Linked DNA regions of Homo sapiens. The protein of the gene in region 2 purifies or fractionates together with the protein of the main gene of each other region. This does not show direct contact. Each region holds a gene or a part of one and is shown on either strand. Other genes may lie near its edges. The genes, in order: PTPRB, ILKAP, CUX1, AASDHPPT, MYO1C, CASQ1 and TAF4B.

Region 1 (3,864 bases), on a different chromosome or scaffold from region 2:
TAGGCAAGATCTGACTACAATATGTACGACTCACCCACATGCCCAACATAGCATATACTCTCACCTGTGGGCCAAAATGCCTGTGTTTCTGTTTTGTTCTCAGTAACAATTTTTCTTCTGTTTAAGTCCCAGCCTCTGTGAGTCATCTCAGGGGGTCCAATCGGAACACGACAGACAGCCTTTGGTTCAACTGGAGTCCAGCCTCTGGGGACTTTGACTTTTATGAGCTGATTCTCTATAATCCCAATGGCACAAAGAAGGAAAACTGGAAAGACAAGGACCTGACGGAGTGGCGGTTTCAAGGCCTTGTTCCTGGAAGGAAGTACGTGCTGTGGGTGGTAACTCACAGTGGAGATCTCAGCAATAAAGTCACAGCGGAGAGCAGAACAGGTGAGAAGCCCAGGTGCCAATGGCCAAGGGATGGTGGGAAGTAGCTTCCAGAGACACATTTTGATTCTGATTTTAATGACAAGAGATAAAGCCAATAATGATATACCCTGAGCTAGCCCCTGAATTTGGGAAGGGACTGTGGGACAACAGATAAAGGACAAGGCTTTGGTCCAAAAGAAATATGTCCTTAGCTTAGCTCTATGAATCTGGGCAAGTCATTGAGCATCTCTAGGCCTCAGTTTTCTTATCTGCAAAGTGGGAATAATCATATACATCATCACTGTGTGGCTATCACCAGTGCTTCCTAACTGTTTTTATGTCATGGGCACACACAGAGGTCTGTGTGCCACCCTGGAGTTAATCAACAAGGCTATCTGCAACTGAACATAATTGTCTGTGGACGTCAGCCCTGTACCCCAAAATCTGATGGAATTAATATCTTCACACACTTGTAACCCATTCAGGGCACACTCATGCTCCACAGCACCATGGTAAGGAAGATCTGGCTATGAATATTTAAGAAAAGGTATATGAGGCTGGGCACCGTGGCTCATGCCTATAATCCCAGTACTTTGGGAGGCCGAGGTGGGTGGATCACTTGAGGTCTGGAGTTCGAGACCAGCCTGGTCAACGAGAGGAAACCCTGTCTCTACTAAAAATACAACAATTAGCCAGGTGTAGTGGTGGGCACCTGTAATCCCAGCTACTTGGGAGGCTGAGGTGCCTGTAATCCCAGCTACCTGGGAAGCGGAGGTTGCAGTGAGCCAAGATCACTCCACTGCACTTCAGCCTGGGCAGCAAGAGCAAAACTCTGTCTCAAAAAAAAAAAAGTGAAAAAAAAAAAAAAAAAGTACATAAAATGCTCGAAGACAGTGCCTTACACATAATAAACACTATTAATGAAAGCTCCTGCTACTATATTATTATCATATTATCTCTTCCTACAAAGTACATTAAAAGTGTGTCTGATGTTGCTCAGCTATCTTATTTGTATATGTTATGGCATAGCTGTGATTATGTGATTTTTCACTTTCTCCTACATTCAGCTCCAAGTCCTCCCAGTCTTATGTCATTTGCTGACATTGCAAACACATCCTTGGCCATCACGTGGAAAGGGCCCCCAGACTGGACAGACTACAACGACTTTGAGCTGCAGTGGTTGCCCAGAGATGCACTTACTGTCTTCAACCCCTACAACAACAGAAAATCAGAAGGACGCATTGTGTATGGTCTTCGTCCAGGGAGATCCTATCAATTCAACGTCAAGACTGTCAGTGGTGATTCCTGGAAAACTTACAGCAAACCAATTTTTGGATCTGTGAGGACAAGTATGACATGTTTTGCTACTCTTATTTCTCAAATGGAGTAGAGGAAGTATATGTTCAACATCTTACTCAAATAGGGCTTGGATTAAATCCATATTTTTACATGGGATTGGTCTGGATTTGAATTCAGGCAGAAGTCTCTGTAGATTTGTTCGTTCATTCAACATTAACAACAAGGGACAATAAATCTCTCTCTGCCCTCATGGGGCTTACAATTAGGTAGGACGTACTATTTGTAAATAGACATTATATTTTGGGTGTGATGAGGGAAGTAAATGGTACTATGGAGACACTTGTTAGGTAATCTGACCCAATACAAGAGAACTTCTTGGAAAAGGAAACATCCAAATAGAAACCTAAAGCAAGAGATTTACCAGGTAGAGGTAGGGGAAGAAGTGGAGAATATTCCAGGTAGAGAGAATAAAATATTCCAAGATGAGAGAGGAGGGAGAGTACAAGATCTACCAATAGGGGAACAGAAAGAAGTTTATTTGGCCATAGCATAAAAGGTGAGGATTAAGGGAATCAGATAATAAAATATTTTGTATTCCATGGTAACTACTTTGAACTTTATTTTGAACCAACTGGAGCCACTCAATTTCAGCAGAGATATCATAATCATTATTTACACTTTAGAAAGTTACTCTGGGTACAGTGTAGAGAATAGATTGAAAGAGGCAAAACTAGAAGCAGAGGGATCATAGTTAGCATATACTGCTGTATGTCCCTGAGATAAAAATACTTCGACGACGAAGCATATACCAGTTTCTTCCCAAAGGCATTTTGGGATAGATACTATCACCCTCAAAGAAAGACAGGTATTCAGTGTAGGGACTTTAATCCAAATATTTGTGTTTCAATAATACCCAGTATAAGTAGCTTCTGGGATCAGATCAGATAGTTATTGGTTGTTGATAAAATACATAGTTGAAAGTTAGAAATTTAAGCAAGTAGTTGTTTTATTTTTTTAATAAGCATTAATACTATAACAAGTATAACTTTTATGCCACATTGTATCCAAAGAGCAGTTATTTGTGTGTCAAGAGAAATATGTGAAAAAGAACTAAGAGTTTTAGTTTATGGCGAGCTCAGGATGAGTTTTCCGTGGCTGACTGTGGGCTGTGTTCATGAAATCTGCTAAGCAGAACACCCTGCACTGGTTACCAAACCCAGGGCAGAACTCTAAACACTTCTGACCATTGCATCTGGTATTAGAGTAGCCAGGGAAACACAATGCAAACACTGGATGGAACAAAGCTTTACTTACATAGAGAGGAGACAGAGTAAGATCAGCCTCAACAGTATGCATCAGTCCCCCACAGCCAGCTGCAGTAGTTGCCCAGAGATGCACTTGCTATCTTCAACCCTGACAACAGAAAACAGAAGGGCGCATTGTCTGTGGTCTCTTCCAGCAGCCAATGGAGGGCAGTTGGCTAAGTGCACCCCTCTCGGGCCACAGTAGAAGGACCCTGTCCTGTCTCCTCAGAGGACAACTATAGCATTGGTGTTCGCCATCTACCATGTGACACACATGCTTAAGCAGAACAAAAGAGCATACATTGAGCTTGCAACAGGGAATGATACTCCCACACAAGGCAATGAGCCCAGCACAGGGTGTGTAGGCTCTCCATCTCTTGGTAAGAAAGTATCTTAAGCTCAAGGGCCATTTCTTACACAGCCAAATGGGGGTTGATAGACTATGCACATGAGACTGCCTTTCCCAACAGCCTCGCAGGTGCTCAGTTTAAGAGCTCATACAACTCTGTTAGAGGCTAGGCTTATAAGTCACAACTGGACTGTTGTATTCAGTCCCGGGTGCTAGAATTTAAGGGAGGCATTTACCAAAAGGGGGAGTGCCCAAGAGGACAAAAACTGCCATGAAAGAGAGACTCAGTGCTGTTTCATGAGGAATGATTATGGTGGAACTTGTTTTTGTTTTGTTATGTTTTGTTTTGTTTTCTTCGAGGCTTGTATTTATTAGGATCGGGTGAGGCTATGGGTAACAGAAAATCCAAAATAGCAGAAGTTTAAATAGAATAGAAGTTTATAATTTTCATGTAAAATCATTCCAGTACTCAATTTCTCACAAATATGCTTCAACCATAATGAATGATTTGCAGTTCTCAATTTTCTACCATCCCACTCCGGC
Region 2 (3,864 bases):
ATTACAACTAAGGGTACTATCTTTATTGGGAAGGTTTCAGGCCACACTGTGAGTGTGAGGATGCTGCAATTTTTTGGTATGGGTCTACAGCCCTGAAGATTGAGAATTCTTATATAAGATGACTGGAGTACTTTTCCTAAAATATAGAAAATATACCTGCATACGAAATGGGATTACCTGCATTCCCCACTGCCCCCACACCATCTATCTCCCAACCTCTCCTAACCCTCACCTTCCCCAACCAGAGGAGCTCTACCTAAGAAGTTCTCATGAGACAGAATCATACCTTTGCCGCAATGGCAACAGGAATCTGCTCTATTCTTCCCTTCTACTTAATTAGGACATGAAAAGGAACATTTTCAGGAGGAGGTAGAGCCAATGCTACTAGCCTCGATACATTTGAGTCAAGCACTCTGTTTAACAAGGCAAATCGGAATAATGAACTCTGAATTTTTAAAAAATGTTAATAACAAAGTTAAGAGTAAATTAGTGAACTCTTAATTCTTAAAGGCAGTTCCAACAATCTGAACCTCAAGAAGTTAATATCACCAGAAAGTGATACAGTATTATCTTTGTGCTTCCAATTAATGTGCCTGTTTATAGTTTTAGTAAACCTTATGCTGTATTATGACTTAATGTCATCCAAAATCCCGTTAAAACCTATACATAAATTTCACATAAGAGTAAAATACTATGTATTATTTCCATCAGCACCTTGGATTTTTCCTACCACTTACCTGAATCGCCACTGCTAGCGGGTGGGAGATCATCAAAAAGCAAAGGTCCCCCTGATCCTGAAACACAGCAGAACACTTAGTGAGCCCACAAAAAATATGTAAGACTTAAGTTTCAGAATCCATCCCACCAGGACACCTATGTAGGTTACTGAAATAAACTCAAAACTTTGCGTCAATCCAGTGGCAACTCATACTGCAATGAATAATATCTTGAACCTATTTTAAAGTCCTATTATTTCAAAGGAAATAAAAATCTGCCTTAAAAAGTTAAATTGTACTTCAGGTAGTAAAATAAATACTCAAATGAACCAGAGAAAACTGCTCCACATTTCCTCGCAGTACTTCTCAGGGCTAGCGACTAGCAGATTTTTCTGCCTTACCTGATGCCATGGATTCAAAACTTAAAGACAGTCCAACACCTAAAACATCTGTGTGTTGAAAATGGGGGAAAGGGAAAAAGATTGAGACAACTACAATCCCAGGATGAGTAGAGACGTTGACACACACCTGGGAGAGCCTGAAGACTGTACCTGAGTCAGTACTGCTGGCCGGAGGGAGGTCATCAAAGAGCAGGGGTCCTTTCTGAGCTTCTTTCCCTAAAACACAGAAAACCTGTTTAGAGAGCATATGGTCATCACCCAGGACAGATTTTCAAAGAGGAAGATCATGTGGTCTCCCCTGCTTTGACACAAGTTTGCTATTAGATTCTAATTTTCTCCTTCCTGTTGGGCAAATTTTTAAAACATATTTTCTTAACAGCTTTTTTAATATGGACATCTGTTTCCAACAGTTACAGTCAACATAAAAGCAATGATTGATGCCCTAACAGGCATCTTCAGGGCCACTGAATATTTTGAGGAAAACAAGTATTTTCTTGATAATTTCATTATTGAAAGCATGAAACATTTAAAAGTCTTTCTTTAAAATAGAATCCTGGGAAGAAAAAAACTGATTCTAGACCAGGAAAACAATACTTGAGACTTCCTGATAGACGTTCAGAAATTTGGGGTGGGGTGGAGGAGGGGCCTTCAAAGACCTACAGGTTTATAAAAATCCTATTTCGGTAACATTCTGCAAGGGAAGAAAATCTGTTGGAACCTGGTGTCCCTAGCCCCAGCACAGTGTCTGATTCAATAAATAGCTATGGAGAAAATAAAGGAGTTTCAGGTAACCAAAGACAGATAGCCTCAGGAGAAAGTCACGAAACTCTTTTAACAAAAAATGTGAAGATTTACACTCCAAAAGTATGTCTTAAATGTTTTATGCCCAATTATCTTTTTCCACATAAAATTTAACGACCATTCCTTATTTTCCAGCTTTTTCCTGAAATTCTGTTTAAGCTATTAGATATCTGAACTGGCACACAAGAATCCAAGTTGAAAGTATACACGTTCACCTCCTGCAAAGTTCAACACACCAACCAAACACACCAGCTCTATCCCACCTCTTGCTCCTCAGAGTTCAAGTATAAAAACGTGCTCATTTACGCCAGGCGCAGTGGCTCATGCCTATAAACCCAGCACTTCGGTAGGCTGAGGTGGGAGGATTGCTTGAGTCCCGGAGTTCGAGACCAGCCTGGACAACATGGCAAAAAAATGTCTATGAAAAAAATACAAAAATTAGCCAGGTGTGGTGGCAGGCGCCTGTAGTCCAAGCTACTCAGTAGGCTGAGGTGGGAGGATCACCTGAGCCCAGGGAGGCCAAGGCTTCAGTGAGCCATGATTGGGCCACTGCACTCCAGCCTAGGCAACACAGTGAGACTCTGTCACAAAAAAAAAAAAAAAAAAAGTACTCACTTAAAAACCAATTCACTTTTTTTTTTTTTTTTTTTTTTTTTGAGACTGAGTCTCACTCTGTTGCCCAGGCTGGAGTGCAGTAATGTGATCTTCGCTCACTGCCTCCACCTCCCGGGTTCAAGCTATTCTCCTGCCCCAGCCTCCTGAGTAGGTGAGATCACAGGCGCACACCACCATGCCCAAATAATTTTTGTATTTTTAGTAGAGACATGGTCTCACCATATTGACCAGGCTAGTCTTGAACTCCTGACCTCAAGTGTTCTGCCTGCCTCAGCCTCCCAAAGCGCTGGGATTACAGGGGTGAGCCACCATGTCTGGTCTAATTTTTGTATTTTTAGTAGAGACGGGGTTTCACCATGTTGGCCAGGTTGGTCTCAAACTCCTGGCCTCAAGTGGTCCACCCGCCTCAGCCTCCCAAAGTGCTGGGATTACAGGTATGAGCTATTGTGCCAGGCCAAACACCAATTCAACTAAACAAATAAATTTATATCCCCCAAGAGGGTCATCCCTATCATCTTTTTGCCTCCATTTAGAAATGAGCTGGGTATCAACTTTCTTCTTTTAAAAACAAAAGCTTTAATTAAAAATTTATAAACTTAAGGGAATGAAATTTCTCCCGGGGTCTTTGCGTCAGAAGTACCTAAAATACACAAGAAATTCCTGAGTTAACAAAAAATAACTATTTTGCTTTATATCCCTAATACAAATGGGAAAATGTATTCTAATCCTTCAGGATGACCCTAAACAAATTAAGGAATTGCAAATACTTTCACTTTTCTTACAAGTGACATAAAGACTCTATTAGAAGTATACAAGAAGCAGAAGAAAGCCATTAAAAAGTATTTAGTATGGCCAGGTGTGGTGGCTCACACCTATAATCCCAGCACTTTGGGAGGTCAAGGTCAGGACTGAGGTCAGCAGTTCAAGATGAGCCTGACCAACATGGTGAAACCCTGTCTCTCCAGAAATACAAAAATTAGCTAGGCATGGTGGCGGGTGCCTGTAGCCCCAGCTACTTGGGAGGCTGAAGCAGGAAAACTGCTTGAACCTGGGAGGCGGAGGTTGCGGTGAGCTGAGATAGCGCCACTGCACTCCAGCCTGGGGGACAAAACCAGACTCTGTCCCCAGCACCCAAAAAAAGTATTTAGGATAACCATTACTCAATGTATTAATCCACTTACAAGAATTCCTAATATCCCGAAGTAGGTCACTTTTGCCCAAACATTGGGTCTAACAATCACAACGCCCGTTCTCCGGACAGACTCAAAAACCACATGAGATGTTCCAGACAATCACGCTGCATTCAGTGGTGTCACAGAGCCAGATGTCTT
Region 3 (4,568 bases), on a different chromosome or scaffold from region 2:
GCTTTGATTTACAGCAGCTGCAGGTCAGGCTCCTCCGCGCTCGGCCTCGCGCCCGGGGGTGGGGGCTGCGGGCGGTCGCGGCCTCCGCCGGGGGCCCCGGGCTGGCCCAGCCGCCGGGGGGCCCGCGGCGGCGGGGAGGAGGGGGGTGCCGGGCACCGCGGGGCCGAGTCGGGGCCGAGTCCCTCCCGCTCCCCGGCCCCCATTGATCACTCGCTTGATCGGAAATTGATCCTCTTTGTTCAATTCATCGATCAGCCCAAGATGGCGCCGGGAGCCGCCGCCGCCACCACTGCCCCCGGTGTCTGCCCCCACCCCGGGCGCCCCCCCGGGCCCCGCGCCGCCGCCGCCGCCAGCGCCGCCGCCGCCGTTGCCGCCGCGGGACCGGGGAGGGGGCGGCCCCGGCGGCCCGCGGGGTGCGCGCGCGAGCGGGGAGCGGGGAGCGGGCGGCGGGGGGCGGGCGGCGGCGGGCGCCGGGAGGGGGCCGCGGCCCGGCGGTGGCGCCCGCCCGCCCGCTCGCCCCGCGCCCCCGGCCCGCCGTATTCCCGGGGAAAGTTTGTGGGGAGTTGCTGCGGGGGGTGAAGCGCCTGCCTCTCCAGGAGGAGCCGCCGCCACTGCCGCCGGCGCGGCGGAGCTGGGGCTGGTGGCGCTGTGGTGCCGCCGGCTCGGGGGAGGGTCAGAGCGGCCACCGGCGGCGGCGGCGGCGGCGCGGCCCGGCTCCGGCCAGGCGGGCGGGTGGCCGGGCAGGCGCCCGCGCTCGCTACCCCCGGCCGGCCCCGGCCGCCGCCCCCGGCTGTCACCGGCCCGGGCCGCGCCGCCGCTCCGGCACCCCGCGTGTGGCTCCCGGCGCGGACCCCCGGGTTTGTTTACGTCCCGGGGAGCGCCCCGGGGCCACCCGCGCACCTCGCGGCCGCCGCGCTCTTTTGTGTGCCTGTGTCGGTGACGCGGACCTGTTCCTCCGTGGCGGACCCCCGCGGGGGCTCTTTGGGGAAACTTGGCGAGGGGCGGCGGGGGTGCCCCGCGCGCAGTGTCGCTGGGTCCCGGTGTCCCGGACCGCCGGGTGCGGGCGCGGGAGGAGGAGGCTGCAACTTTCCCCTAGGCAGGCCCCAAGCTGTTCCCCCGGGTGCCCGGGCAGTGTACGCTGCCTCCCCGCCGCCGGTCCGAGCCGCGATCGCCGCGCGCCTGGGGGCTCCGGCGGCCCCCGGTGACCTGCGGCGCCGGGTCCCTTCCTTGCGTCCCCTCGGGGCTTCTGCCCTCTCTGCAGGGCCCGCCATGGAGCGCGCGGCGGGTGCGCTCGGAGATGCCTTCTCGGGCCGGGTTCTCGAAAGCAGAGCCCCGGGGGCCCGTTGGGACCGTGGCATGCCGGGCGGTGGTCCGCGCGCGGAGTCCCCGGCGCCGCGGGGGGACCGTGCCGGGGCTCCCCGGCCCGCGCCCGAGTCGCCGCCGTGCCCAAGGGGCGAGTGCCTGCCTGCCACCCCCCGCCCGGAGGAGCGGCGCACCCTTAGGGTCCGCCCCGCACGTGCCAGCTCGGCGCCCGCGGCGCCGGGACAGCCCCGGGACTCTGCCAGGTGGATGTTGTGCGTAGCCGGAGCCAGGTTGAAGGTGAGCGGCGTGTGGGCCAGAAGTCCCGAGGTTGCAGGCGCGGAGGGAACCGGGGATGTCGGGGGGTGCCCGGGTCCCGCGGCTTAGAATGCTCTAGGGCGGCCTGGTGCTCTGGGAGGGGATAGGAGGGTTCCTCAGGGCCCCTGGGGAACTGCAGCTACTCCCAACTGCTAAGGTGTGCGTGAAGATAAACTTGGCTGAACTTTCCTAACCTGGAGGACTGGTGACAGTGACCTACCGCAATACCTTTGGGAGCAAAGCTCGAGATGCAGGCTTGTATCAAACGAAGCGGGTTGGATTAAAACATATTTAAATGGAATCTGACAACTTTAATTGTATATGCTTGTTTTCTGCTCTTGCCTACTAAGAACGATAAAGCCGAGTCATAGTCGTTATGAAATTTCCTGAAATTTCTCGCTTAACTAGGAAGAAGACTATGCGAAATATGTATTTCCGATAAGATTAAAACTTAAAGGAGTTTAAGTATTTATTGACTAAAATAGATTACTCCAAAGTGTCTATTGTGTAAATTAGATTCCTGGATGTAATGAACACAGCCGAATGGCATTTTTGATAAATTGGTCTACCCTGTTTTAGTAAAAATAGCTCCCTTTTACCATAATTTAATTCCTGTGCTTACTGTAAAACCCGTTGTGGAGTTTTAAGGACAAACATTATTATTATTTTTCTCTCTTGTCTTCCTAAATGTGACATCCTAGCTTAATATCAATGAAGTGTCTTTTTTAAAGCATCCTGGCAAAATTGCCTGGAAAATGGATTTGGTTTCTAGAGTTACTAGATTTTAAGAACTCTAAACCTTCCTGTCCCCCATATTAGCTACTTCTTCAGGGGATCAGGGCTCCAGGGTTCCATCGAAAGTTTCCATGTCAGTTTACTTGCACTTTATGTGGATATTAAGAAGAAATCAAAACCAAACCCCAAAACAAAGTCCCTTATTTGAACTTCATTCCTCTTTACTCCTTTGCTTTTGGTGGTTGCTAACGATTTGGCCTTAGATGATTTCCTATGGGTTTGCAAACTTTAGTCGAATACGGAATGTCAAAGTTCAAGTCTCAGGCCAATCTGGTTCTTTCTCTGGGCGGTGAGGAGGCCTTTGGAGTTGGTGTCTGGTTAATTCCCACCGATAGTCAGTGAGTCAATAGAACGAGTTTGGGAGAGAATTCATTAGTTCCAGATTTTTCTCATTTTTCCAGACCTCTTTATACTGAGATTGGGTTGCCACCTGGGGGTAAAGAGGCTGATCGGTCTTTGCAGAGAGAAATCCAGGTTGGAGACGTCAGCGGGTCCAGGTGAGGTTGGGCCGTTCCGCAGTTCTGCAACCCTGGCTCACTGGGTTCTTGTCCCTCGGCTTCCTGGGTCTTGAAGCTGCTGCCTTGGCACAGGAGTGTGTGCTCAGGAAGAGAATTTCTGAAGATTGTGTTTTATTCCGTTTCCTTTTTAGTCCCAAAGGCTTGTGGTATGGAAGTTTCAGTGCTTTGGTATTGCTAAGACTAGTTGGACAAGTTTTTTATCCTATCTCAGACTTGTAAAAACCAGGTTTTCTTTTCTTTTTAAATAAGAAAAGCACTGTTGTATAAATTTGTCTTTTAAATACATATTTGAAAGGAGGACACTTTCTAAGACAAAGCTCATGGCACTCTGTATGTTAGTGGAGCTTTGAACTCTTTGGGACGGGGCCCGCCAATGACTGCCTTCCCTTTGGGACATTATTCCCACATGGTGACCAGCCTTCCCCTTTAAGCAGCTTCTGCAAAAGTAAACTTGAAAAGTTGCCTTCTTTTTCAGAATCAAAAAACAATTTCAGTTTTGCTGAAAGTCCATTTTCTGATGGCTTTTTTTCCCCCTGTTGTGGAAGTGTGTATGTTACTGGCTGTCCAGTACTGTTTGCCATAATAAGTATATTATTTTAATTAAAATGTCCCATCTAGTACCCTTTATAAAAGAGCAGTTCAAGAAATTACACCACTGCTGCTCCTGCTTTTGTTTTCTTGGTTCTTTTAATATGGGTGTCTTTGAGGTTGGATGTGGGAAGGGGTCATTGGCAGTTGATTTAAGTTTTTTCCTATGTGAAACTCTTTTTTTCCTTAAAGGTGCAAGTGGTGAGTTAATGCAACAACTCCTGGTACAGTTGAGTCCACAGAGAGCCCTTTGACTACATCCTCGGCTTCGTGTATCTTCTGTCGGTAGTTAGCCAACCTAAGAAAGCTGAAAGGGCCAAATAGTCCAATACCTTCAGGAATGATTCTCTCCTAAATCCACTGAGCTAACCTTAAAAATGCAGTCTGGTGAACTGTGCTGAGCCTGAAACCTTTAATGGCTATTTAAAAAGTCTCCTGTTTTTGTACAATTAAGACAAACCCATCAGGGTTTATATGGGAGCTGTGAAGGAACAGTAGTTTGTGCTCTCTGATTCCCTTCTGGGTCTACCTGTAGCAGTAAACAATCAAAACCACTCCTGAGGCTGTACTCACTTTCTGTGTCTTAGGAGAGAACACAAGACTAGAAGTAGAAAATCCACATTTGTTTCAGCTCCTCTGTAATGCCCCAGGAACGTCTGTTTTTAGTGAAATGAAGGAAGGACACGTTTGTTAGGGGAAAACTCATACATTTCGTAAGCAGAGAAATTCATCATATGAAGAATCCTACAGAGGTAGGTTAAATTCCTACCCGTGCTTCCATTTCAAATAGTTTACACATTTGTCACATGTAAATTTCACAGACAGGTATATCTGACGAATTGTAACACAAATGGTATGTAAAAGGCAACTCTAACCATTATTCAAATATACAGGATCCAGGATCGTGAGTTATTGTAGAAATTACTTAAGACCTATTTAAAATTATTGAATACATAACTTTAAAAAATGTAATTGCTCTATGAAAAGTGACTTTTATTATAATTGTCAAAGACAGAAATTTGTCTGTCTTGTCCTTTTGTTTTGTCTGAA
Region 4 (3,864 bases), on a different chromosome or scaffold from region 2:
GGCTGGTCTGGAACTCCTGACCTCAGGTGATCCGCCTGCCTCAGCCTCCCAAGGTGCTGGGATTACAGGTGTGAGCCACCATGCCCAGCTGCTTTTTAAAAATGTTTCTACAAAATCCCTAGTGATCTTAATATTTGCTAATAAAGAGTACTACTATATCTATAATCTTAAAAAAATCTCTCTAAACTGATATAAGGCAAATGACTATTTCCATCAATAAAGAGCAAACTTAACATTGATTCATGCTATTTAGAAAAAAGAGAAATCCTAAAATCTTACATCCTGATGTCTAGATCCATCGGGTTTCCTAAGAGCAACTGCAACAAAATGGTGCTCATCTATTTTGCTTTCCTGAAAGATAAAAGGTAAATAAATATAGATTATAAAATATGTAAACCTAGATGTAACTTTGTTTACATTTTCTAAATCTCATTCTCTCTCTCTCTATATATATATACATATACGTACACTCACACGCGTGCATATATATATTTCCCCACCTCCGCTAAACTACTTTAGAAGTTACATATGTGCTGGCCCTTTACTCTTAAATACTTCAACATGTATTTCCTAGTAGGCACATTCTCTTACATAACCACAGCAGTTAATAACGTCAGTAAGTTTAACATTGAAACAATACTTTATTAGCTGTATTCCAAATTCTGTGAATTAATCCAATAGCATCCTTTGTGGCATATCCCTCCTCCAGAACAGGAGCCCAGTAATGGGCAAGTAGGGACAAGTATTGCATTCAGTTGTCATGTCTTGTTAGCCTTTCTTTTGTTTTTTATGACATTAACGTTTTAAAGTACAAATTCCCTAAATCTGCTTTTTATTAATAAAATATTGCTCATTTGGGGTTTGTTTGATATTTAATGAGTGGATTAGGTTATGCATTCTCAACCAGAATACTACACAGGTGATGTGCCCTATCTAGAGGTACTTGACAGCTATCTGTCCTTCACTGGTGATGTTAGTATGTATAATAAAGTACAAGGTTAAAAAAAAAAAATCAAGTTGCAACATTGGTATGTAAGCATTTAGTAAACTACATACTATCACGTATGAAAAATCATGGTGGAAATTTATAGGTAAAACATAACCAATATGCAATTTTCTACTTTCCTCTACATATGAGACAAAGGGGAAGGGGACTTTAAAATGTAATATATATTGAAGCAGTTACCAGAAAAAATTGTAAACACTTAAAAGCTGAACAAACTTTTCACTGAAAAACCACTTTACTAAAGCATTCTTCCATAAAACGTCAGAAGAAACTACAATTAGAAATAGTACTTAGGGAGCTTTTTCATTTTTTATCTTCTTCTTCCTATCTTCATACCTTCAGGTACCCAAGTCAGCATAAAGTGAAATTCAGTAAGGATAAATTTAAGATATGTTTAAAGAGGAAAAATATAAGACTAAGTATCAGAAGATTTACTATGTCAAAGTTATCGCAAAGTAAGTCTGCTATGTAGCCCTGTTCTGTTTTCTCTTTAAACAAACAAGAAAAAAGTAACTGGAATGTACAAATTTAAAAATATCTAAAATAATTTTTCAGAAATTTAGCATATAAGATATAGTTCTTATATGTATTGAATATTTCAATAAATAAGAATCATGCTTAATGTATAATGAGAGGTGTATGTACACTAACAATTGATAGTTGGACACTAAAGAATGTTAACTAATGGATATACTGTTTTGAAACTTTCATTTTTTAAATTTTTTGTAGAGGCAGTGTCTTGGCCTCCCAAAGTGTTGGGATAACAAGCATGAACCACCACATCTAGTCCTTAGCAGTTATTGACCCAGCTCTCTTCTTCAAAATGCTTTCTGTCCTTGGATACCAACACTACTCTCTTATACCATTTTGGTCATTCTTTATCAGTCCCCTCCACAAATTCACCTTTGAATATTAGTATAGATGCTCCACGACTCACGATGATGTTATATCCCAATAAACTCACTGTAAGAAAATATGGTTACATGGAAAATGCACTTAATACACCTAACCTACCAAACATCATAGCATAGCATAGCCTACCTTAAATGTGCTCAGAATACTTATATCAGCCTACAGTGGGCGAAATCATCTAACACAAAGCCTCATTTATAATAAAATGCTGAATAGCTCATGTAATTTATTGAATATTGTATTGAAAATGAAAAAAGGAATGGTTGCGTGGGTTCTGCAAATATGAATTCTACTGAATGCATTATCACTTTCATACTGTCATAAAGTCAAAAAAAGTTAAACCATCATAAACTGGGGACCATATATATTCTCAGGGCTCTATTCTAGGCCTTACTTCTAACTTCTTGTGGTTTCAATTTCCACTTCTCTCTTCATAGATTCAATATATAGCTGTTCCTTAGGTAATCTCACAGTTTCAACTTCAAATCCATGGTTTCAACTACCATTGACATAATGGTTATACTTATAACCATTATGATTATAATTTTTTTCCTCTAGCCCAGCCCTCCATTCCATTCACCTATCTGACATCTTCACTTAGATGTTTGGTATCTCAAACTTAACATCTCATTTATTTTCTAGTATTCAGTATCTCAACAGATGATCTTGTAAGTCAGAGAACTGCTCTATAGCCCGTTTGCTGGACACAAGCAGGACCAATCACAGTATAATGACTGGTCTGGAGATAAACAACTAGCCCAAGCTAGGCCAGGGCATCCCTTCTCTAGGATTTTTGGGCTTGGAACAGAAAGTGAGTTTACCAGTTTGTTTAGGTTTTTAAACTGTAAATTGTTTATAAACTGTTACATGCAACAGTATGTTACATGCAAGAGCCATGTTTTCTGTCATGCAGACCAGAGAGGCTGAGAAAGCTGGTGTACAGAATGAGAAACATGGGTGGGAGAAAACTGAAGCCAAAATGTAGAGAAAGGCAAAACTAGGAGACAAAAAGAGCTCTAAATATTTCATCCCCTAATTCTAGCTAATACTGGGGACAGTTACTGAATCACTCTAGTAACCTATAATACTGTTTTGGGGGGTTTTTTGGCTGTGTGTGTTGGCTTCTCTCACTAGCAACCAGGAACTGCCAGTGACAGAAACAAAATACAGTAAGAAACCAAAATATTTAACTTGATCAATACCTTGTAGGATCTACCAGCCTGATCTGGAATCTCTCTTAAATACCCTCATTATGGCCCAGCCAAAGTGGCTGCGTTTGGCTGTTCATACATGCAAAGCTCCTTGTCAGAGCCTCTTTTCCTTTCCCGTACTGAACTCACAATGACTCATCTTTCAACTTCTTTCAAGTATTAGTATAAATGTTACATGCTCTCATAGTAGCCCTGATTTCACTTTCAGAGCAGCAGGACTGGATTCAGTTGCGTCCAAATTCAGTGACTAGCTTACCCAAATTAATCACACATACATGCATAAAAAATAGAAATTCTTAGTTTTAACAATTCTAACAAATTTCTTACCTCAAATGCCCATTCTTTTTCTTCCTCTCCATCCAGGAATAAACGTGTTTCTTTATAAACTTGGCCTATATCCAAGTTTAATGGAGATAGATCAAATTCAAGCCGCTGCAATTCAAATCCTAGTCCAACACCAATGGCTTTTATGAAGCTTTCCTTAAGTGCCTAAGATACAGAAAGACATTTTCTCTTAGAATTTGGTGGACAAAAATTTTTCATAGAATCTACAGGTCCAAAAGATAGGGAGTTTCAATGCTATACTACATTATGGCTATATAGCTATAACCTTTTTAAAAAAAAACCCTTACAGCATGAAAACAAACCATCCATATGATCTTAGGGCAAATCATTTAAGCTCTCCGTGCCTGTATCCCCTCGTATGTAACCTGCGATGATGATAACAATACCTTC
Region 5 (3,864 bases), on a different chromosome or scaffold from region 2:
GGGAGGGGAGGGGAGGGGCAGGGAGAGAAGCCCAGTGCGGGAGGGGAGGGGCAGCAGTAGCTACAAGGCGGGGTGGGGAGGGCAGGGGGAGAGTGCCAGGTGTCCCTCATACCCCTGTCCACTCCTAGGCCTTTGGAAATGCCAAGACCCTCCGGAACGATAACTCCAGCAGGTTCGGGAAGTACATGGATGTGCAGTTTGACTTCAAGGTACCATGGATGTGTGTGTCGTGAGGATTCCCATTCAGTAGGCTCTACACGTGTGAAGCACCTACTGGGTACCAGGGACTATTCCAGGTGCTGCAATTCCAGCAGTCAAACAAAGCAAACAAAAATCCTGCCTTCCAGGGTGATAAACAATAAACAGGGAAATTGAGGCCGTGGCAGAAAATAAAATGCAGTAAGGAGTGGGGGGCAGGTGCGGTCGTATTAGGGTAGGCCTCACTGAGAAAGTGGCATTTTAATAAAGGCTTGACAGCTGGGTAGGGTGGCACATGTCTGTTGTCCCAGCTCCTCTGGAGGCTGAGGCAGGAGGATCACTTGAGGCCAGGAGTCCAAGGTTACCCTAAGCTATGATCATGCCACTGTACTCCAGCTTGGGCTACGGAGTGAGACCCTGTCTCTAAAAAAAATAGAAAATAATGGCTTGATGGAGATAGGAGCAGGCTGTGCAGGTGCCTGTCCAGGCAGCGGGAACGGAACAGCCAGGACAAAGGCCTGAGATACGAGGGTGCTGGAAGTGTTCCAGGACAGCACGGAGGCCACAGCGGCCAGAGAAGAGAGCAGGGGCCCGCGAACAGAGAGAGGCCAAACGGTGCAGGCCCTTTTGGGTTGTTGCAAGAACTTTTTTTTTTTTTTTTTAACTCTGAGTAGAAGGGGAGTCATCGGGCTGGGTGAGGTGGCTCATGCCTGTAATCTGAGCACTTTGGGAGGTTGGGGCAGGTGGATCACGTGAGGTCGGGAGTTCAAGACCAGCCTGGCCAACATGGTGAAACCCTGCCTCTACTGAAAATACAAAAATTAGCCAGGCACGGTGGTGTGTGCCTGTTGTCCCAGCTACTCAGGAGGCTGAGGCAGGAGAATTGCTTGAACCCGGGAGTTCGAGGGTGCAGTGAACTGTGATTGCACTACTGCACTCCAGCCTGGGTGAAAGCAAGACCCTGTCTCCAAAAATAAAAAATAAAAAAATGACTTTAGCTGCTTCACTGGGAGATTGGGAGTAGACGAATAGATGGGAGGGGAACCAGGCTAAGCAGGGAAAACGGTTAGGGGGCTGATGTCATCATGTAGGTGACAGGTGACATTGGCTCAGACCAGTGTGGTGCAGTGGAAGTGGCGAGCAGTGATTGGATTCTGGATGTTTTAAAGGTTAAGGCAGCAGGATGAGCTGCCTGATTGGATGTAGGGTTTGGAGAAACACAGGCTTCCAGGAGGACTGCCAAGTCCTTGGCTTGAACAACGAGAAGGATGTAGTCACCACTGACCAAGGAGGGCAGACACTAACAGGAGCTTGTTTGAAGAGGGAGAAGGTCCGGTGTTGAGCTTCAGGCCTGTTGAATTTGCGATACCTGTCAGGCATCCAGGTGGAGCAGCCAGGTCGTTGGAGTTGAATCTCCCCATTTCCTAGATGAAGTAACTGAGTCCAGCGTGGGTGGCGTGCCTGAGCCGACGCAGCTAGTGGCAGGGCTGGAATTGGCATCCAGGTCTGGCTGCCAAAGCCCAGGAGTGCAGGGGAGAAGAGGGGCAGGTGGGCTCTTTTCCCAGTCCCCGTGACCCGGCCTCATGCCCTGCCCTGCCCACAGGGTGCCCCCGTGGGTGGCCACATCCTCAGTTACCTCCTGGAAAAGTCACGAGTGGTGCACCAGAATCATGGGGAGCGGAACTTCCACATCTTCTACCAGCTGCTGGAGGGGGGCGAGGAGGAGACTCTTCGCAGGCTGGGCTTGGAACGGAACCCCCAGAGCTACCTGTACCTGGTGAAGGTGAGTGGCTGGCAGGGAGGGCAGGTGCCACCCAGGGATCTGGTGCCAGGGCTGGCAACCCAGCTGTGCCCTTCCTCCAGGGCCAGTGTGCCAAAGTCTCCTCCATCAACGACAAGAGTGACTGGAAGGTCGTCAGGAAGGCTCTGACAGTCATTGATTTCACCGAGGATGAAGTGGAGGTGAGGCCTCTTCCGGGACCCTCGCTTTCCTCCTGTCACACCCCCAAAATCTCCTTTTTTTTTTGTTTTTTATTTTTTGAGACGGAGTTTCATTCTTGTTGCCCAGGCTGGAGTGCAGTGGTGCAATCTCAGCTCACTGCAACCTCCGCCTCCTGGGTTCAAGCAATTCTCCTGCCTCAGCCTCCCGAGTAGCTGGGATTACAGGCGCCCGCCACCACGCCCAGCTAATTTTTTGTAGTTTTAGTAGAGACGGAGTTTCACCATGTTGGCCAGCCTGGTCTCGAACTCCCGACCTCAGGTGATCCGCCTGCCTCAGCCTCTCAAAGTGCTGGGATTACAGGCGTGGGCCAGTAATCCCTTTTTTTTTTTTTTTTTTTTTTTTGAGATGGAGTCTCGCTCTTTCGCCCAGGCTGGAGTGCAGTGGTGCGATCTCAGTTCACTGCAACCTCTGCCTCCAGGTTAAAGTGATTCTCATGCCTCAGCCTCCTGAGTAGTTGGGATTACAGACACCTGCCACCACACCTGGCTAATTTTTGTATTTTTAATAATGATGGGGTTTTGCCATGTTGGCTGGGCTGGTCTCGAACTCCTGACCTCAGATGATCCTCCCGCCTCAGCCTCCCAAAGTGCTGGGATTACAGGCGTCAGCCACCGTGCCCATCCCACCCGCAGAATCACCTTCCACCTTTAACACCCATTCCCACTTCCAGCCCCTTCTCTCCGACACTTCACCACCCACCCCTGCATGGCCATCTGCTAGTTGCCCTCTTGGGGCTCTCTGGCCCCTCTCACCCCCTCCTGCCCCCGGCCTGCTCCCCCAGGACCTGCTGAGCATCGTGGCCAGCGTCCTTCATTTGGGCAACATCCACTTTGCTGCCAACGAGGAGAGCAATGCCCAGGTCACCACCGAGAACCAGCTCAAGTATCTGACCAGGGTGAGTGGGGCGGGCAGAGGGCGACGGGAGGACGGCGGGGGCGGGGGCTGGGGGTGCACCCTCACCGTGTCCTCGCCTGCCCTTGGCAGCTCCTCAGCGTGGAAGGCTCGACGCTGCGAGAAGCCCTGACACACAGGAAGATCATCGCCAAGGGGGAGGAGGTGAGGCCGGGCCCTTGCCCTCGGGTGTGGAGGGGCAGCTGTTCCAAGGCAGCCCCTACTCCCATCACTCCCCTTCGCCTGGTTCCCTCAGCAATGCTGGAGGGATGGAAGGAAGGCTGCTCAGAGAAGCAGAGTGAGAGCCGAGCGCCGTGGCTCACGCCTGTAACCCCAGCACTTGGGGAGGCTGAGGTGGGCAGGTCACCTGAGGTCAGGAGTTCGAGACCATCTTGGCCAACATGGTGAAACCCCATCTACTAAGAATACAAAAATTAGCCGGGCATGGTGGCGGGCGCCTGTAATCCCAGCTACTCGGGAGGCTGAGGCAGGAGAATCGCTTGAACCCGGGAGGTGGAGGTTGCAGTGAGCCGAGATCACGGCAACAGAGCTAGACTCTGTCTCAAAAAAAAGAAGCAGCACAGTGAGCTGGCCAGGGTCACATAGGAAGAGAGTAACAGTCCGGCTAGAACCAGACTCCCACCTCGGGAAGGAGGCCTCCTGTCCCTCTACCACCTTCCCTCTGGGGTGGCCACCTGTCCTCCCTGAGGTCCCACTACCAGCACCCCTCCCCATACTGCAGGCTTGCTGGAGCTGGGAGTGCAGAGTGGTGG
Region 6 (4,549 bases), on a different chromosome or scaffold from region 2:
GAGATGAGTATTCATGCCACCCCCTCTGAGCACTCTAGTAGCTGGTTCCCAGTCAAGCTCTTTAATTGCTATTACTGACCAGATGACTTCATTATTACTGACCACCCCTCCCCCATGCATGTCCAGAATCCCGTCTCAAGCCTGTGCTGCCCCCTAGTGGCTGACTGCTCTAACAACCATGGCTCTGGATGGGAGGGGTTGGAAGCGGAGTTTGCAGAGGTCTGGCCAGCCCCGCCTGTATTCCCCGACTCCCCTTCCCTCCAGCACCTAGCCATGTTTTAAGGTAAGTATAAAGAAGGCCTCCCCCACCTCTTTCTGGGATTTGAGCATGGAACTTCATAAGGAATAGAGAGGCAGAGTCTCCGAGCCATAACCCTCCCAACCTCATATTTTCTCACCCCCTCTTTTAGAATAGACATAAATCTGAGAGATTCCCAAGCCCCTCGGATCCCAAGGACTGCCTGACAGGTCCTCCGCCCTAAGCCTCCCCTTGTCTCAATGCCACCTTCCCCTCCCCTGCCCTCCCCTCTCTTACCTAGTTTCTTGGCCACAGCTGCATCCTTCTCAGAGTCTACCAGCCCGAAGCCAACACCCTTGTCTTCTAGGACTTGGGCTGCTAACTGGAGGGAAGGATTATGATTAAAATTAGCCCCTGGAATTTTTATTATCCCCTATTCTCCCTCTCATGCTTTCAAGTTGGGTCAGTTGAGGTGCGGGAGATATAAGAGTTGACCTTGACCCTTTGCTAAGATCCAGAATATCCCCCAAATTCCCTACAGCCACACAGTTCTGTTTTTGGCTCAACTTAGTTCATGAATATTGATTGCTCATTTGCAATGTGCTTATTATGTTGGACTTGAAGACACTGCACTCAATACTTCCCAGTGCCTAAGAGGTACTGAGGAGTCTGGCTTCAGAGTGACTGAGGGCCCCTTCCCTCCTTCAGGGTTGAGTCCTGCATTCCATCCTGCTCAAGTCACACCTGGAGGTCCCTGTCCCTGGTCAAGGGCCAAGCTCAGTGTGGGGTTGATCTTGGAAGTCCCTGAGATTCTTCAGAGTGACTCCCAATGGGAAGAATTTTGGAGGGTGGGAGGGTAGTGGTGGGTCTGGTCATGTTGTTGAGGAGTTGGGGAAGGCCAGAGAGCTGAGATAAGAGGTCACCATTTGTTACCCCCCAGAGGGAGAGAGACTGACAGCGACCGGACAGTTCTCCCCATCAGGGCCCAACTTTCCCCTTTCGCACTCTACTTCAGCCTGTCCTTAGGCTGTGGACAGTCACACCTGGAGGTCCCTGCCCCCATAAGCCTTCCAGCTTAGCGTTCAACCCTGATTTTCTCTGCTGTGGGCACAGCTTGCAGCTCTACCCCCACTCAGCACAGACTCAGGTACTGTGATTCTCAGAGGGGTGGGGAAGGGAGGCGGTTGGCAGGTGGATGGCCAGGGATACTGAGCACTCAGGATAAAAATACTCGGCTCATTAATCAGATGGCAGGTTCTAGCACCCAGCAGGGGTGCACAAAATGAGAGCCTGTGGTTCTGGTGTCTCACCCTGAAATGCTCCAAGCTCTGGACAAGCTGAGGCCAGAGAAGGGGCCACAGGAGCTTGGACAAGAAAACTCACATCCCATTTCCTAAAGGTGTGTGTGTATGAACACATTCCCAAACATAGGTTTTTTTTCTTTTCTTATGATAACTTCTTTCTCCTTTGGGCCTGAAGTCATTTTGGAGGTGAGGAGACTTTTCCCACAAAAAGAAGATTGGGGAAGACATTCTGACACCTCCTGCAACCATAAGAATTTTCCAGTGAGGGCATCCAGCTTATCCAATGGAGACAAATGGGGAATTAGGGAGGGGGAAGGAAGAGAGAGGGGACTGGGAGTCCAATGGGAGGCATGATCTCTAGGAGATATTTAAACATGGCATGCAAGTATCATAACATTTACATTTACACTCAGTTTGGATCTCTTTGGGGTGCAGCCCCTGAAGTATGTGGAGAGGACGTGTTCTGGCTAAGCAGATGGGTGGGGTAGGGGAGTGCAATATACACTGCTGTTCTCCCCTGGCCCTCCAAGTACCTCCCTTTTTCACCCTCAGTGTCCTAGCCAAACCTAAGTCAAATACTACCAGCCTCCTATAGCAGGGAGGGGAGCTCTTCCTGCAGCACCCCTGCTAAAGGTTTCCTGACGCTGATAGTACTTTTGGGTTCCTGAGACTCTGTTTCTCATTTGACTAAAGCCACATGCCACTTGCATCCTGTTGGTCAGGACAGGGTTCCTACCACACTGCCCCTCACCCCCAGATCCCATCCTCAAAGAGCTACATGGGTGTAGGATAGGGGATTCCGGAGAGGGGCTAGACATGCTCTGCAGGCCTGCAGTGCCCCCAACTCACCTCCAGGATCAGCTCCTCCATCTCAAATTGTCTTTGTGAGGCCTTGTCATCCTCGGGGGGTTCATGGTAGAGGAGTGCCAGCACCTCATACTTCTTGAACACATTCTTGTAGTTCTTTGCATTGACATTGATCACACGGTCCACACCATCGTACTCAGGGAAGTCCAGCCCTTCCTGCCCCTGTACCCCTGACTTGGGTGTCCCTAGCACCAGCAGCAACAGCAGTGCCAGCCGCAGACCCGGCACAGCTCTGGGCCCCATCCTGTCTGTAGCACTCATGGAGGTAGTGGGATCTGGGTTGGCTCTCCTGGTCCAGAAGAGGTTAGCTGGGGTAGGGAGGGGCCCCTGGGTCCCAGATTCTGAGTTAGGGGCTCAAGTGGGAGGGGGGATTGGGGAATGGCCCAGAGCAGTGGACAGAGGGCACTGCTGGGTCCTGGAGAAACTGCCGACAGAGCCAAGGGAAAAAGGGTCAGGTGGAGGAATAGGAGCAGGGGGCGGGGAGGGAACCGGAGCTGCCCCCTGAAATTGGCACCCCTCAGTCCCCACCTGGTCCTGTCTAAATATGTCTCCATGGTTGGCAGGAGAGACGGATAACCTTCTGAGGCCAGGACAGCTCCATGCGGGCCGGAATCCTCCCACCTCCTACACTTCTACCCCAGGCTCCCAGGGGCTCCTTCCCTCCCCCTCCTCCAGTGTCCAGGGCACCTCAGCCCCGGTCCCCACACTGGCCTAAGAGCTCATCGCCATATTAAGAAAGGAAAAGGAGAGATGCCGGAGCTAAAAATAAGACCAGATGAGTCGGAGGTAAATGAAGCTGGGGCTGGGGGAGGGGAGGTATAAGGGTAATTAGGGTGGGCCGAGGGTGGGGCAAGGGTAATTAGAAGTTAAATGCAGTGGAGAGGAGGAGCTAACTGGGTCAGAGGCTAAATTGATAATATAGGACAAAAGGGGGACAAATGTGGTATTGGCTCTATGTCCTAAAGCCTGGGAATCTTCTGTAGGTGAAGTCTGATTCTGATTCTTTGATACTATGTAGGAGAGTGGGGCGATAAAAGTGCAAGCCAGGCTGCAGGAAAGAGACCCCCTCCACTTTCTTTTAAAGAACCAGGACCAAGGATGAGGTCATTCTCTGAATAAAAGATGGAGCCGCGTCCAAGACTGGCAACCTGGCTCAGCTCCAGCCAGTTTCCTTTGCTTCACTCAGCACTCCTAACTTGGGAATGCAGGGAAGGACAGGGCTGGCCCAGATCCTGTCCTGTAGAGATGTGGGTTTGGGGTTTCTCTGCCTATAAAGCCCACAATGAGAAGGGGTCTGTCCTTTGGTTGCCACCTGTGTGTGCACTCCCTACCCTGATCCTATGGGACTCGGTTTTCTGGGGCACAGTGGGAAGGGAGGTTTTCCCAGGCTGCATGCTTCCAAGGAGAGTGAATAGCTACTATTTATTCCCATGTCTTTGACAAGACAAAGAGGATCAGGTATTGACACCAGGGCAAAAAAAAATTAACATTAGGCAAGCATGAAGAGGTGAACCCTGTGCCCTGAACCAAGACTGATGATTAATTCTGTGCACCCGAGATCCAAAGCAGAGATGGGCGGGTAGGGGCTTAAACTTCTGGATCCAGCTTGGGGGGTGAGGACAGAGTAGTGAGTTTAACTCTGGATACGTAGGAAGGAAGGATCCTCTTCATGGCCCTCCAGGGTTCTTACTATGCACAGGTAAACTGAGGCATGAGGGAGACCATAGAGGGTCAGATCAAAGTCACATGCTGCCACTGCACCCTGAGGTATCTCTGATTCTAGAGGGACAGTGGTGTTTTTTTTGTTTTGTTTTGCATCCAGGGAGGGTCATGTAATTATGTTAGCAGAATAACTTTTCCACATGTCTGTGTGGTGGACCTTACACAGCTGAACACGGAAGGCCACAGAAAATCTCAAAAGCATGGCAGGAGTGAGGCCAAGAGGGACAGCTGTCACTGTAGCAGGAGAGGTTGGAGCTAGCCTAAGCACAGCACGTTGGAGCTGAAGAGACCTCAGAAGCCCATATCCTGGTCTCCCTGAAGAGTGGCTAACGTGGGAAAGCCCCAAGGCCAGAGCAAAGGCAGCCAGGTGAGATGGGGAGGCCTGCCCAGAAGCAGATGATCTAGGTGATGTCCAGCC
Region 7 (3,864 bases), on a different chromosome or scaffold from region 2:
TCCCGAGTAGCTGGGACTACACGTGTGTGCCACCACGCCTGACTAATTTTTGTATTTTTTGTATAGATGGGGTTTTGCCATGTTGCCTAGGCTGGTCTCAAACTCCTGGCCTCAAGTGATTGCTTACTTTGGCCTCCCAGAGTGCTGGGATTACAGGCATGAGCCACTGCACCTATTTCTATCCAAAGTTTGAAAGTTACTTAATGAAGAGACCTAGATTCTGCTGTGGTTTAAATAAACTTATAGATACTGAAGTTACTAATGATCTATTATAGGGTTTAGATGATTATAGAAAAGTATAATACAGTGTTTACCAAATTGATATTGAGGGAATACAAATAAGTTTAATACTGAGATATAGTAATTTCATATTGGAAAACAGGCACTTGGGCTTTAAATTGATTGTATCCTGGATATTGGCAGGATATAAGTAAGTGATACAAGCTGTCTTCAACTGAAATACTTGATACACTTTTGATTGGTTTTAAGTTGTAAAGGTATGAAATACCACATTTTGTTTCACAAGTAGCTGATTTGTTAGCAGTGTTTTTTTCCATTCCTCTGCATTTCCAGAAAAGCGTGGTTGCCTTACGACAACTTCTGCCTAACTCCCAGAGCTTCATCCAGCAATGTGTTCAGCAGACTTCTAGTGACATGGTCATTGCTACCTGTACTACAACAGTAACAACTTCTCCTGTGGTGACAACTACAGTGTCCTCAAGCCAGTCTGAAAAGTCAATTATTGTTTCTGGAGCAACAGCACCCAGAACTGTGTCAGTGCAAACTTTGAACCCACTTGCTGGTCCAGTGGGAGCAAAAGCTGGAGTTGTGACACTTCATTCTGTGGGCCCAACTGCTGCAACAGGAGGAACAACAGCTGGAACTGGTTTGCTTCAGACTTCAAAACCACTTGTGACATCTGTGGCAAACACAGTGACCACGGTCTCACTGCAACCTGAAAAGCCAGTTGTCTCTGGAACAGCAGTAACACTGTCCCTTCCAGCAGTAACTTTTGGAGAAACTTCAGGTGCAGCTATTTGTCTTCCATCTGTGAAACCTGTTGTTTCTTCTGCTGGGACCACATCTGACAAGCCTGTTATTGGGACTCCAGTTCAAATCAAACTTGCCCAGCCGGGCCCTGTCCTTTCACAACCAGCTGGGATTCCACAGGCAGTTCAAGTCAAGCAACTAGTGAGTAACATTTTGTTTCTTCCCCAGTTACTTATTTTGAAAATTTTGAACATTCAGAAAACTGGTAAGACTAGTAGAAAACTAGTAAGGCTATATACTGTTTACGGGTTTGACCAATTAATTTTTTTTTTTTTTTACCTCATTTGCTTTGTTTTCCTCTTTCTACTCACACCCACAAACACACATATAAGTCCTTTTTTTAAAGACAGAGTCTTACTCTGTCGCCCAGGCTGGAGTGCAGTGGCACGATCTCGGCTCACTGTAACCTCCACCTCCCAGGTTCAAGCATTTCTCATGCCTTACCCTCCTGAGTAGCTGGAATTACAGGTGTGCACCACCACGCCTTTCTAATTTTTGTATTTTTGTTAGAGATGGAGTTTCTCCATGTTGGCCAGGCTAGTCTTGAACTCCTGGCCTTAAATGATCCACCCGCCTTGGCCTCCCAAAGCACTGGGATTACAGACAGGCAATGAGCCACCACGCCCAGCAGCAAACACACACGTAAGTCTTTACTGAACCACCTGAGAGTGGTTGCAAAAATTATGACAGTGCATGGTGTATATCTCCTAAAAGGTTTTTTTTGTAAAACATAACCACAACATACCTGTTGTCACACACAGGAAATTAATATTGGTACAGTATTTCTGTAGTTGTCCCAATAATGTGTTTTTATTTTTATTTTTTTGTAGAGAGAGGGTCTTGCTGTGTTGCCCAAGCTGGTCTCAAACTCTTGGCCTCAACTGTTCCTCTCGACTTAGACCTCCCAAAATGTTAGGATTACAGGCATGAGCCACTGTACCTGGCTCATTTAATCTAGAATACTTCTCTAGCTTTTTGTGGTTGTTTATTATATTGTAATGTTTTAAGTGCCCAGAATATTTGCAGAATAGTCCTTTGTTTTGTCTGATTGTTGTGTTTTTTTGCTAAACTTGGTAGGTTGGGAGGTTCTTGGGTGAAAGAAGGAAATTTTAGCTGTTTGTCGATTAGTGTTTAGAATGTTCTTCTTTATTTAAGAAAAGGTAAGTTTTACCAGAAGGCTATGAAAGTATTGTTAACTCATGGGAGATACTACATGATGCATTAATTAAAAATCATAACGTTTTTAGTAAAGTTCTTCCCTATCTTCTACGATAACAGAGCTTGCTGTTCTTTTGGTGAATGTCCTTGTTCTCTTTTGTAATGCTTTGCATTAGACGCTGTGTTTTAAATCTCTGTTTTGGTTCATTCTGCTTCTTGGGTAGCCTTTCCAGCCCTGTTTGTTTTATCAGAATAAGAGGTATCTGAGTGATTGTCGTCTGAGGCAACAGGGCAGCTTTGGACATAGAATGAAAGGGGTTGATCCGTGACCAGAATTGGAGAGTAGTCAGACTCTTGAGCAGATAAATGATGGTCATTTCCTGGGCACTAATCTTTTCTCATCCCTTCCCACTCTGCATCTCATTTTCAAGTGGGGAAATGTAACTGCCTTGCAGGATTTCTCTTGGGTACGTGAATTTAATCTCAGAGATGAAACAACATTTTTAGAAGCAGTGATTCTTAAACATTGTTCTGGGCAGCCAGGTTTGAGAACCACTGGAATAGAGGAATTGCCCCAAGGAAAGGCCTCTTTTTGGTAGCACTGAACAGAATTGAAATCCTCTTTATATGTCATAGTTGTTTCTTGAATCAATGCTAATCTTTATTGAGCATCTATAGCATATAGGTCCCTGGGGTGAAATAATACTTTATAGCTACATAGTTTTAAAAGCATGTCATTATATGCTATGGATTTTAAAATAATTTTATGATAAAAAGGTAGGGAGAAAACTAAGAATCCAGAAATTCTGAGCTGACTCATCCAGTAACAGTTAAGTGGCCGGGCGCAGCGGCTCATGCCTGTAATCTCAGCACTTTGGGAGGCCGAGGCGGGCGGATCACCTGAGGTCAGGAGTTTGAGACCAGCCTGCCCAACATGGCAAAGCCCCGTCTCTACTAAAAATACAAAAATTAGCCAGGTGTGGTGGTGGGCACCTGTAATCCCAGCTACTTGGGAGGCTGAGGCAGGAGAATGGCTTGAACCCGGGAGGCAGAGGTTGCAGTGAGCCAAGATCGCACCACAGCACTACAGCCTGGGTGACGAGCGAAACTCGTCATCTCAAAAAAACAAAAACAAAACAAAACAAAAAACAGTCAAGTAATGGATCTCAGACTAGAACCCAGATGACTTTTCCATTAGGGTATGGTGCTCTTAGAAAGAACTTCTAGGTTTCTGGAATGTCCTGAAGCAGGAAGCTGTCTCATGATAATATCTTGACAGCATTTTTGTTTTGTAGGTTTGACTTGTTATACATTATAAATCATTTCAATAAAGAAATAATGCAACAAAATTTGATGGTAAATTTTAGGGTTTTTTTACTTCCTACCTTCATTTTTAATAATTTCATTTTCCCTGTGAATTCTGCTTTCTTGTTTGTCCTTTGTTTCAAGTTTAGCCAGTAAATTTGATGTTAGTATTTACACCTACCTGTTTAAAGTGGCAAGAGCCAGAGTGGCCAGACCCTGAAGACAGATTGTAATTTATTTCACAACAGATTTACCTGGAGCAAAACAACATAAACCATTCTATATGGTAATGCCATAGAGAAGATTGAACTAGGGCATTCTTTCAAATAAACTAAGTTAGAAAATTAATAT

Evidence for each region.
Region 1: the proteins of ILKAP (region 2) and PTPRB purify together in Homo sapiens (pull-down; one large-scale study listed by IntAct). This does not show direct contact.
Region 3: the proteins of ILKAP (region 2) and CUX1 purify together in Homo sapiens (affinity purification with mass spectrometry, with the first as the bait; one large-scale study listed by BioGRID). This does not show direct contact.
Region 4: the proteins of ILKAP (region 2) and AASDHPPT fractionate together in Homo sapiens (co-fractionation; one large-scale study listed by BioGRID). This does not show direct contact.
Region 5: the proteins of ILKAP (region 2) and MYO1C purify together in Homo sapiens (affinity purification with mass spectrometry; one large-scale study listed by BioGRID and IntAct). This does not show direct contact.
Region 6: the proteins of ILKAP (region 2) and CASQ1 purify together in Homo sapiens (affinity purification with mass spectrometry; one large-scale study listed by BioGRID and IntAct). This does not show direct contact.
Region 7: the proteins of ILKAP (region 2) and TAF4B purify together in Homo sapiens (affinity purification with mass spectrometry; one large-scale study listed by BioGRID and IntAct). This does not show direct contact.

Annotation. Positions count from the first base shown.
Region 1 is NC_000012.12:70,557,197-70,561,060, reverse strand, and holds part of PTPRB (receptor-type tyrosine-protein phosphatase beta), read left to right. Parts: intron 1-64; exon of another isoform or gene 65-126; coding exon 127-390; exon of another isoform or gene 391-456; intron 457-1,436; coding exon 1,437-1,718; intron 1,719-2,982; exon of another isoform or gene 2,983-3,081; intron 3,082-3,864. UniProt on the Homo sapiens protein: Plays an important role in blood vessel remodeling and angiogenesis. Not necessary for the initial formation of blood vessels, but is essential for their maintenance and remodeling. Can induce dephosphorylation of TEK/TIE2, CDH5/VE-cadherin and KDR/VEGFR-2.
Region 2 is NC_000002.12:238,193,538-238,197,401, forward strand, and holds part of ILKAP (integrin-linked kinase-associated serine/threonine phosphatase 2C), read right to left. Parts: intron 1,334-3,864; coding exon 1,268-1,333; exon of another isoform or gene 1,245-1,267; intron 795-1,244; coding exon 738-794; intron 1-737. UniProt on the Homo sapiens protein: Protein phosphatase that may play a role in regulation of cell cycle progression via dephosphorylation of its substrates whose appropriate phosphorylation states might be crucial for cell proliferation.
Region 3 is NC_000007.14:101,816,071-101,820,638, forward strand, and holds the start of CUX1 (Homeobox protein cut-like 1), read left to right. Parts: upstream 1-1,555; 5' UTR 1,556-1,569; coding exon 1,570-1,599; intron 1,600-4,568. UniProt on the Homo sapiens protein: May be involved in intra-Golgi retrograde transport.
Region 4 is NC_000011.10:106,091,070-106,094,933, reverse strand, and holds part of AASDHPPT (L-aminoadipate-semialdehyde dehydrogenase-phosphopantetheinyl transferase), read right to left. Parts: intron 3,619-3,864; coding exon 3,457-3,618; intron 352-3,456; coding exon 280-351; intron 1-279. UniProt on the Homo sapiens protein: Catalyzes the post-translational modification of target proteins by phosphopantetheine.
Region 5 is NC_000017.11:1,478,823-1,482,686, reverse strand, and holds part of MYO1C (unconventional myosin-Ic), read left to right. Parts: intron 1-128; coding exon 129-209; intron 210-1,801; coding exon 1,802-1,981; intron 1,982-2,061; coding exon 2,062-2,160; intron 2,161-2,981; coding exon 2,982-3,095; intron 3,096-3,184; coding exon 3,185-3,256; intron 3,257-3,864.
Region 6 is NC_000001.11:160,188,873-160,193,421, reverse strand, and holds the start of CASQ1 (calsequestrin-1 precursor), read right to left. Parts: upstream 2,848-4,549; 5' UTR 2,671-2,847; coding exon 2,392-2,670; intron 621-2,391; coding exon 536-620; intron 1-535. UniProt on the Homo sapiens protein: Calsequestrin is a high-capacity, moderate affinity, calcium-binding protein and thus acts as an internal calcium store in muscle. Calcium ions are bound by clusters of acidic residues at the protein surface, often at the interface between subunits.
Region 7 is NC_000018.10:26,285,309-26,289,172, forward strand, and holds part of TAF4B (transcription initiation factor TFIID subunit 4B), read left to right. Parts: intron 1-573; coding exon 574-1,191; intron 1,192-3,864. UniProt on the Homo sapiens protein: Cell type-specific subunit of the general transcription factor TFIID that may function as a gene-selective coactivator in certain cells.